2 separate regions of the Homo sapiens genome follow, and region 1 is linked to region 2. Evidence: fine-mapped expression QTL. A gene starts in region 2. The other region holds a variant in brackets. All regions are shown on one strand. Distances are from middle to middle.

Region 1 (5,389 bases), 30 kb before region 2:
CCAGGTATAGCCCGAATCCTGGGAGATTAACATTCTCCAGATATAAGTGCACAACTGCTATCAGGTCCCTTTATATTTATTCTTTTTTTGAAAGGATATCGTTTTTTAGAAACACAAATAAATTATTCCGCAAGGCAAGCACTTGTTATCCACCAGACGCTATTTTAAGACTTCAAAAATATATGACTAATAAAATATGTTTCCCTCAAGTTGCTCAGGGTCTCATATCAATGATAAACTTAGTCCAAATTTAAAAGACAATGCAAATTTGATATTTATGGGATAAATATTACAAACCCATGCTGTTGAAATTAGTCCTCCAAAAAGCTGTAGTCTTTTTACTTGTTGAAAGGTCTGGGGAAATCATCTTGTAGTATGGTGAGAAAAGGATTTGGGTCAGGAAACAAAGATGGGGTAAACAGAGCTTCTCTTCATCGACCAAAATTAAAGACTGAATTTCCTAGGAAGTAGTGCCAGGACATGTCTTTCTAATTATGGTGAAAATGTTGGAGTTTCTCTTGCTTCTCCAGAATCCTGGCTCAGAGAAGAGAGCAAGAAGGGCAGACAGGATTTCTGCCGCTGTTGGCCTAGTGTTAATAGAAGTTGGTGTGGTGGATGCAGATGGAGATCTGTCCAGAGTAGGGGACTTGAGCAAGAAGCCTGGTGGGCACCCTGTGCTCAGCCCTAGACCCCATCCCTCCTCCCACTTCACGTGGACTCTGGGTGATCCGATCACGTTCATGGCTTCCATTGCTGCCTCTATGCTGGGGACACTCCGAACAGGCATCTCCAGCTCAGGCCTTATCTTGGCTGTCTCACTTGCTTTCAGACCACAGCAACCTGAAGGCCTCAAAGTTACCATCACCTGAAAATACACCTATGATTTCCATCTCCCCACATGTGCCCACCCTCCAGATTCGCCTCCTCCCACCTCACTGTCCCCCTCCCCACATTAAATAACTCCACTTGGTTCCTGGTTTATGGCGGGAACCAGAGAATCATCTGGGACATCTTTCTTCCCCCCAACTCCATTGAGTCCCCAAGACTGAATGCCAGTTTTATGTTCAAAACTCTAACTGAATGTCTTTGAGGCACAGGACTGAAAATGAACGACGGAGAAAATAAATGTTGTGAATGCCCTAAAAACTAGCTGTATTCTAGCCAGTATTCCTATAATTACAGGAAGGTTGTTTGATGTCTGTATGTCTCTAAAGTATGTTTTTCTCTTCCTAAGGTAATTTTAACTAGTTCAAAGCAAATTGACAAATCCTCTATGTACAAGTTTTTAGAACCATGGCTTGGCCTAGGACTTCTTACAAGGTATGCCAGTGTACCTTTGTAAAGCTGTCTATAGAAATGGTTACTTCTACGTGCAACTTGTTATTTCAAGAATTAACACAGGGTAGCTTTTTCTGTAGCAGGACTGTTCTCTCAGAAAGGAGGAGAAAGGCTGGAAAGGAAGGTCCAGCTGGCAGCTGGCCTTTGCCCGTCAAGAGGCCAAGAGTCCAGGTGAACAGTTATCTTCAGCTGTGGTATTCAATAGCGACTGTCGCCAGTGTTCAGGAAGACTCAGGAGGTCCTGATGGACGGGAGTGGACGGGATGGAGGACACAGTAAAGCAAAGGAGTGTCTGGAGCAGGGAAATCTTGAAAATCCAATCAAAAAGATGGTCAGCCCCAGAGAAGTACAGTGAGCTGGTATCTAGAAACAGGGCTCCATCCTCTGAGAGAGGGCCCCACAAGAGCAAGGCAGGAGCCTAGCAGGGACTTTGGAGAACTGGAGAGGGGAGAGATCAAGGTAGAACCATGGAGTGTGAGGATCATCTGAGGACTGAGGTATTGATGGAAGGAGAAATAAATTTATTATTAGAAACTCGGAACTTAGAAATTGAGAAAAATTCTTAAATTTTTCAATTTTATGAATGCTATTTTAAACATGTATAGAACAATGTCCAAAATACTCATATTTTGTAACTATAGATGAATATTTTATAGATATGTGTATATCTTTGTCATTCTGCCAAAAGCATTTGAGAACCTGTAGATGAAGCTGTTTCAGGAGAATTTTGTTGACTTGCTATATTTATGCTTTAATCGTTTTGGATGTTACTTTTCTCTTTCTCTCTCTCTCTCTGTAGATATATTTTTTGTAACCACATATTTTATTTCTAGTACTGGAAACAAATGGCGCTCCAGGAGAAAGATGTTAACACCCACTTTCCATTTTACCATTCTGGAAGATTTCTTAGATATCATGAATGAACAAGCAAATATATTGGTTAAGAAACTTGAAAAACACATTAACCAAGAAGCATTTAACTGCTTTTTTTACATCACTCTTTGTGCCTTAGATATCATCTGTGGTGAGTCTCATCGATCTGTTTCTAAATTTATGGCATAAAGAGAAAATGGCCCAAACAGGAAATCACACTCCACCGGGAAGGCAAATGGGGGGACGGGAAAGGGTGACGGGCTCTTCAGCGCGGTTCTACGACCGCACTGGCCTTCTGAGGAGCAGCAGCCACGCCCAGGGCTGTGAGTGGGGCAGGCATGGAGCAACTGCCCAGGGAGGCGAAGGGAAGGAAGAACAGGAACAGGGAGTAGAAGTGGACCGTACAAGAGAAGAGGGTAAAGGGAGGAAGAAGAATTCTGAAATATACAAGGACAAAGCAGGATGTACGTCTTTAGTGTCTGCCGCTGCAAAATAAACACGAGATAACTAACGTGCGTGAATTGAATGGTTGCTTCTCACCCATATTTTATAGAAACAGCTATGGGGAAGAATATTGGTGCTCAAAGTAATGATGATTCCGAGTATGTCCGTGCAGTTTATAGGTAAATGGAGTCCTTTCAGTTATTTTAACAATTATTATTGATTTAGGCTTTAAAAATTATTGCTAACAATTTCTGCGTTGTATCTTTTTATGGTTTCAAAATTAAACATTAAACTAGAAGTTAACCTCATCATGTAAGCATGTGTTTAAGCAGTAAAGGTTATGTAAATTATGGCACATCTAGATTATGTAGTAATTTAAAATGATTATTCTCTAACATTGAGATTACATTATATTGTACATAATGATGCTTACATTATGATGCTGAGAAAAGAAAGATATAAACAGTTTTCTGTACCATGATAATTGTTATATTTAAAAATTATTCATAGAAAAAAACTAGCAGATATTATAACAGAATGTTAGCAGTGTTTCTCATTGTCTC[G/A]TGTATGTGTTTCTCATTCTTGTGCTTTCCTTTTGTTGTTATTCTTCTTCCCATATTTTCTGCACCAAGTAGGTATTGTTTTAGTCATCGAAACAGTCAATTTTACTCTAAAATTGCTTGCAATTATTCACCTGTTAAAAGGCAGGGCAAGGACTTGATGAAGTACAGAGAAGTGCATTGAGCTGAGTATATTTAAGTCTCCTGCTCATTTCACTTCATTTTAACCAATATTTATTAGGCATCTGTGATTTTCCAATCACTGCACAGGGTACTGACTGGTTTTGTAGTAGTACACAAAACAGAATAACACAGGAGGCAGGCAACGGACAAAGAAATTCATGAACTGTAATAATTGCTCAGGAAGAAAAGATCAAATTGATACCAGAGAGCAAAACAAGAAAGTGTCCTACAGAGTGAGAGGCCAGGAAAGGTCTTTCTGAAGAACCGGCACCTAAGCTGGTCCTGCAGGAGATCACATAGGGGTCTTTCTGCTCTATGGCTGGACATGAAAGGGAGGTGCTGGGACAGCCAAGTGACAGATGGGTACTTAGAGAGCCCTCGCTTGTAGAAGAGGGCAGCCAGTTGTCTTCTGTCACTCCAGAGGAGTGGTCAGACCAATGATGGACCTTAAAAAGAGGCCGATTTCATCTCAAACCCTGGTGCAGAGGTCCTAGGCAGAGTGGGAAACTTGCCCTGGAGAAGCAGAAGCAGAGACCAAATGGCTATCTAGTAAGGATGTTTTATAATGAATCCTTCATTCCTTTAAAGAGCCCATTATTTTCTGAGGCTTCATGGGATGCGTAATAGCCCATGCCTTCACTGCTAAGCATAAAACATGGAGCTCTTAGTAGCCTCTAAGACAATCATCGTCATTCCCACGATTGCCTTCATCAAGGCCAGGTACTAAAGAAGTGCTCAAGAAATACACATTTCTGATACAACAGCTGATGTATTTTTATCCCATTTATAGAATGAGTGAGATGATATTTCGAAGAATAAAGATGCCCTGGCTTTGGCTTGATCTCTGGTACCTTATGTTTAAAGAAGGATGGGAACACAAAAAGAGCCTTCAGATCCTACATACTTTTACCAACAGTGTAAGTCCCTGACTTTTACAATTGTGGTAAAATAGACATAACATAAAATTTCCCTTTATAACCATTTTAACTGTACAGTTTGGTGGTATTAAGTGCATTCACGATGTTGTGCAACCATCCCCACCGTTCATTTCCAGAACTTTTGGTAAGTCCATGATGTTGATGTTTTGTTAACATACCCGGTGTAGGACTATGGAGCCTATGTCTCAGAAAATAAAACTTGAATAATAATAGAAAACAATTTTTCATATAAAAAATTATACTTAAGTATAAAAATGTATACTTCAATTATGTAGTCAACAAATATTAATTAAGTACTCGCTAAGTGCTAACCACCATACCAAATGTTGGAAATGTAGTAATGAGTAGGACATGTGTATATGGTCCGTACCTGAAAGGAAGTTATTCTAGTAGGAGAGGTGATCTATCAACACATAATTACAACATGTGATATGAGCTGTGAACACTTATGAACAAACAGGGTGCTGTGTAAAAGAATAAAGGAACAAAGATCTATGTATAGGAGTTTTCTGGAAAATGTTTGGATTCGGCAGTCATTTTCAAAGGCAGAGGGCATTGATAGCAGTATCTTAACATGGAAAACATTAAAACTAACTAGATATTAGTATTCTATTTCCAATTCAAAAATAACCAGAAGATAGTGATGTTGTTTTGAATATAGGATGTCAATCTTTGTGTTAATAATGTGTTTTGAAAAAGCAAGACTTAATTGAAAATATACATCAAATTATAATTTCAGTGTATTAAAAAACTGCCTGTTTAAATATGTCCTTTCTTTGCTGTAAATTTTGGTTAAAATCTATTGGAGTTATGTCCTTGTGGTGAAGTACACCCTACCCCCAAGAGAGCAAATGATGAATAAATCAGTAGATGTTCCATGAATGCAATGTTGGCTGAGCTGGCCACAGTGGAGTGTGATCACCTGGTTATAGGAGAATAGCCAGCAGGTTATATTTCATAATTATATTTTTCCTTAAATTTTGTGCATTAATATTTAATAGCAATAATTAAATGAATTCCAGACTGAATAGACAATTTTATTCATTGAATAAA
Region 2 (5,389 bases):
GAATTGTAATCCCCACATGGGATTACATGGGAGGGGCCTGGTGAGAGGTGATTGGATCATGGAGGTGGTTTCCCCTGTGCTGTGATCTCATGATAGTGAGGGATTTAAAAGTGACAGTTTCCCCTGCACATACACACTCTCTCTCTCGTATCACCTTGTGAAGAAGGTGTCTGCTTCCCCTCTGCCTTCCATCGTGATTATAAGTTTCCTGAGGCCTCCCCAGCCATGGGTAACTGTGAGTCAGTTAAACCTCTTTTGTTTATAAATTACCCAGTCTCAGGTAGTATCTTTACAGCAGTGTGAAACTGGACTAATACATCTGGGAAATTCTTTTTGTCTCCTTCCTTTCTGAAGGACAGCTTTGCCTGATATTATATTCTTGGTTGCCAGGTTTTGTACTTTCAATACTTTGAATATATCATCCCACTCTCTCTTGGCCTACATGATTTCTGCTGAGAAATCCACCAATAATCTTATGAAGCTTCCCTTGTATGTGAAGAATTGCTTTTCTCTTGCTTCTTTGAAAATTCTCTCTTTGTCATGGTGAGGATTTCTTTTTTTTTTTTTTTTTTTTAGATGGAGTCTAGCTCTGTTGTCCAGGCTGGAGTGCAGTGTGCAGTGGCGCAATCTCGGCTCACTGCAAGCTCCGTCTCCTGGGTTCACACCATTTTCCTGTCTCAGCCTCTGGAGTAGCTGAGACTACAGGTGCCCACCACCACGCCTGGCTAAATTTTTTTTGTATTTTTAGTAGAGATGGGGTTTCACTGTGTTAGCCAGGATGGTCTCGATCTCCTGACCTCATGATCCACCCATCTTGGCCTCCCAAAGTGCTGGGATTACAGGCATGAGCCACTGCACCTGGCCGAGGATCTCTTTATATTTAATCTATTTGGAGTTCTTTTGGGCTTCATAAATCTGGATGTTTATTTCATTTATGTCTCCAAATTTTGAGAGTTTTCTATTCTTATTTTTTTAAATAAGTTTCTGCAACTTTCTCTTTCTCTACTTCTTCTGGAACTCTTCTAATGCATATTAATTTTCTTAACAGTGTCCTATAAGTCTTGTCAGCTTTCTGCAATTTTTATCATTCCTTTTATTACTCTGACTGGGTAATTTCAAATGACCTGTATCTGAGCATGCTGATTCTTTCTCCTGCTTGATCTAGTCTGCTGCTGAAGCTGTTTGTGAATTTTTTCAATTCAGTCATTTTGTTCTTTAGCTCCAGAATTTCTGTTTCATTCTTTTTTATGGTTCCTATCTATCTTTTTGTTGAACTTCTAATTTTGCTCATGTATTGTTTTCCTGATTTTGTTTACTGTCTATCTATATTGTTTTGTAGCTTATTGAGCTTTCTTAAGGCAATTATTTTTAGCTCTTGTCATGCAGTAAAGATCTCCATTTCTTTAGGGTCACCTCCTGCTGCTTTATTTCCTTCCTTTGGTGGTTTCTTGTTTCCCCGATTATTTGTGATCAGTGTGGCCTTGCACTGAAGTAGGCACCTATTTCAGTCTTTACATACTAGCTTCAGCAGAGAAAGCCATTCACTAGTCAGATTGACCAGAGATTGTTGGTGGGCTGTCTGTTGGGGTCTATGCACAGGATTTCTGCTGGAGTTCTAAGGTGGGAAGGGCTGGATTCTGGGTTCATTCACTGTGGTTGTCTGTATTCTGTGCACAAGGACTGGCTTGAAGCATGGATCCTTGGGGGCTGACTTGGCACTGAAATGAGCCTTAAGCCTGCGTCTGCAGGGGCCAGCCTAACATGGGGATCACCTGGCACCTGAGTTCATGGGGATAGGCCTGTTCCTGAGTTTATTCAGGCTGTCCTGGGAACAAGGTCCACTGGGGTGAGCCCAGCATCTGGGTCCACATGGCCCAGCATGGAGCCAAGATCTCTGGAGGCTGACCTGGTGCTGGATCTGCAGGGGATGGCCTGGATTCTAGGCCCATGGGTGCCAACTTGGAGCCTGGGGTTGCTGGGGCTAACGTGGAGGCTAGATAGAGTCTTGGGGGCCAGGCTAGAGCTGGAGCAGGCCTGAAGTCTAGGTTTTGTGTGGCCATCTTGGAGCCTGAAGCCCCAGGGGCTGACCTGGTCTGGGGTGAGCATGGGGCTGAGGCCACAGAGGCTGGTCTGGCCTGTGGCAGGCCTGAATCCTGGTGCTGGGGTTTACTGGAGTGGGCTTGGTGCTTGGGATCTGTGGTGAAGTTAGGTTCTATCTTAACTGTCCCTCCTCCATGCAAGAGGGCATCTCTCTCCATACTGTGCTGCCCAGGCTTGAAGGTGAGATGACACCGGTAATGTGAAATTGTCCTTCCTATACACTTCTATGTGTCTTTTCTTATTTCTGTGCTGCAACCAGGTGGCATAACCTCTCACCTGATTCCTTAGCTCTAGTGAAGTTATTTTCGTGCATGGATACTTGTTCGAATTGATGTTTCTGCAAGGGATGAGCGCTAGAAACTCCTGTTCTGACAAACTCCTATTCCTATTCTTGCTGACATCACTCCCTGAAATAGTTAATATACTTAACAGCTGAACACGGATAGGATGTTCATGGAATATGTTGACAGGACAAAAAGTTGAAACTGTTGGCAGAAACCCAAAGTCAATATTGAAGCCAAGCAAAATATTGCCTGCAGTGCCACATTAGAACAGCTTGAAGACCGTTCATTTTTAAGTGACAAGAGACTCACCTCCAAGAAGCAATTGTGTTTTCAGGTAGCAAATTTTTATTATTCTGATTGTTTCCAAATAAACTATAATTTTTAAGTATAATTTTTTACTTTATGAGAAAATTAATCATTTATATTCTAATTTCCTGAGTATGTAGAGAGTATAGATAATGTTCCTTTATGTAGAAATATTTAAATGTAAGATGATTTTAAATCAGAAAGAATATTTGATTGATTTAAAATTTTTAAATGGGCTTTAATATTTTCAGAGGTTTTCTTTACTTAGGGATTTTTGGACTGACATTATTGCCATTATTTATTAATTTTGTTTTTGCCCAAATCAAGAGGTTTCATAATTGTTTACTCTCTCTCTACCAATTCCCTTTCCAACATTACTAGCCACAGAGTTGGCCAATGAACAATAAACACAACAGTAGTCTGGAGGTCTCAATTTGTATCTTGGGAAGCATTATAAATTTTCCAACTCCCTAGACACAAATGTACCAAAAAAAAACCCTTGTTTTCTATACCAGTAATTGTGTGCTTTGTCTTGCAATTCAGACATTTACAAGAAAATCTAAATCACCTTAAATTAAGATTTATGTTAAATGTGGTCTAAAACCAGCAGAGTTATGTATTGTTTTCTTTTTTAGAATGATTTTATTCAAGCAAGCAACTTATTTCATTTCCTTGTTTGCTACAGTTTCCTGTGGTAAGTGAATTATCTATAAAACATGGAATTCAGGCTAAGACAGGAGTAGCCAAGCAAGTGGCACCACCCCTGGAGAAAGCTATTGAACATACAGCTTCGGGGGTGGAGATTGTCCCTGATGATTCAGGACACGTGTCTATTTAATGTTCCACAACAAGGACCACTTGTCAGGTATATTGCTGTAGACATATGTTGCAGACCAGAGGAAGGAGCTCAGAAGTAGGAATGTCTTGGGACTTGTGTTAACAAAAACTTCTGTTCGCAGATGACACTCTGCAAAGCAAAACTTGAAACAAAAAAAAATTAGTCCTCTATTTTTATTATCAACAGTAAAAAATTAAACTTTATCTGAAAATTCAAAAGAGTGCTAGGCATTTTATAGTGTCTGGGTCCAATCCAAGTATCTGTTAGGAACACCATACATAGTTTTACTCTGGACCGCTAGGGAACCATTTCAAAAATGAAAGTAACTGGTTTAAATTTAACTTAGCAAACCATGCATTTGGATAGTTCTAGGTGAATAGCTTTCAACACCAGATTTAGATCTCATTTCTCTATTAATTTCATTAATTTTTGGAGAATAAAAATGATTCTGGACATTTCATTAATCATTACAGAGGGAGTTTTCTCTGTGTCCCCACAAGGCATGATTCTGGGTCTATGGTGACTTAAGAGGGCCACACAACAATGAGTATTTAATTTTCCTCAGATGTATGGCTACAATAAACATCTATAGGTAAGGTTTACATTCATAAAGAGACCTTTTTTTTTCCAGGAAAAAAGACTTTTATTCCCCCTAAATCACAACTCCCCTGTGTCTGTCCCTCAACCCTGATTTCTCTTCTAAACCGTAATTTACAAACCCATGTGCAAACCCACTGAAAGGTGAGAAGGAGCATAAGCCAGAGACACTGGGAACCACAGCCAACTACAGGGGGTTTTTCATTTTTTTGTTTTGTTTTGTTTTTTGGCAAAATAAATCATGATTATGGCTAGGAAAATCAGGGATGTAAGTAAGCAAAAATTTAGAAACTACATATTGCATGTAGTCCCCAAATTCAGAAACAGTCATCGTTAAACATCTTTTATTTAGTCTTTCAGATATTTTTCTACATATACCTATTTGCACATTTCACAAAAAAGAGTTATTAACTGTGGACACTCTTTGACTTGCATTTTCCACTTATAGCTATCTTTTGGTGCAAATAAGTAATATATTTTGGAGCTTGCTATTCTTCTCTTTTTATGGTATTTTTGTGTGCACATTCTTATGCTCTTATTCAGTTATTTCTGTAGAATACAATTTTTGAAATAAAAATACTAGATTCAAAGGTGTGAATATTTTTGAAGGTTTTGTGGTGTGGTATCATGAAATTAGGTTTCAGAAAGTTTACTCCATAGTTGACTTTTTCTACCAGCTAATAAGAGTGCTCATTTACCCCACTTAGGCCAACTCTAACAGGCTTCTGTTGCTTTGCATCCTGACATATTTATCTTTCTGGAAACAGTGTCCTAATTTATTTCTGCAGAGCTACTGCCTCTCAGTTTTGGTCCATGTGGTTCTGGTGACCCTGATTCTTCTGCTGAACCAGAAAGTGCACACATCCTCCTGGCTGTGGTGACCCAATCAGAGCCAACGTCTTGCAATGAAGCTTTTCTTTAGACATCTAGAAATAAGACTCTTATGTTTTTTTTTTCCAATTTGACTTGAAACTTAAGACAATACACAGGCCTGAGTTGTTGGTACTATTTTGCTACTACGTGGAGCTTGAGAGTAATGGTAACACCAAGACTGGAGCAAGTGGAAGGAGACATATTGTCCACTGATGCTATCAGTTGAGCACAATGTGCAGTTACTTTTTAAGCCAGATTCACCATGGGCTTTTTGGCTCCTGAACCAATAGATTTCATTTGTTTTCAAGCCACTTTGTACTAGGTTTTCCATCATTTGCAATCAAAACCAGTATACAAACACTGGTTATTTAATTTTTCATTTTTGCTAATC

Evidence for each region. PIP is the estimated chance that this variant, and not a neighbour inherited with it, causes the effect.
Region 1: its variant is the best candidate, but not a certain one, in a credible set for the expression of KLKB1 in lung (TOPMed, PIP 0.71).

Annotation. Positions count from the first base shown.
Region 1 is chr4:186,194,769-186,200,157 of GRCh38, forward strand. CYP4V2 (cytochrome P450 family 4 subfamily V member 2) reads left to right here. Exons shown (of 11, transcript NM_207352.4): 3 at 1,235-1,320; 4 at 2,172-2,362; 5 at 2,765-2,834; 6 at 4,189-4,315. Among named protein-coding and RNA genes, the nearest start is that of CYP4V2, 5.9 kb to the left of the region's middle. The variant G/A (reference allele first, on the strand shown) is at 3,219.
Region 2 is chr4:186,224,870-186,230,258 of GRCh38, forward strand. KLKB1 (kallikrein B1) reads left to right here and starts at 2,638. Exons shown (of 15, transcript NM_000892.5): 1 at 2,638-2,718; 2 at 3,326-3,384. The coding sequence starts at 3,327. RefSeq lists an enhancer at 1,145-1,815.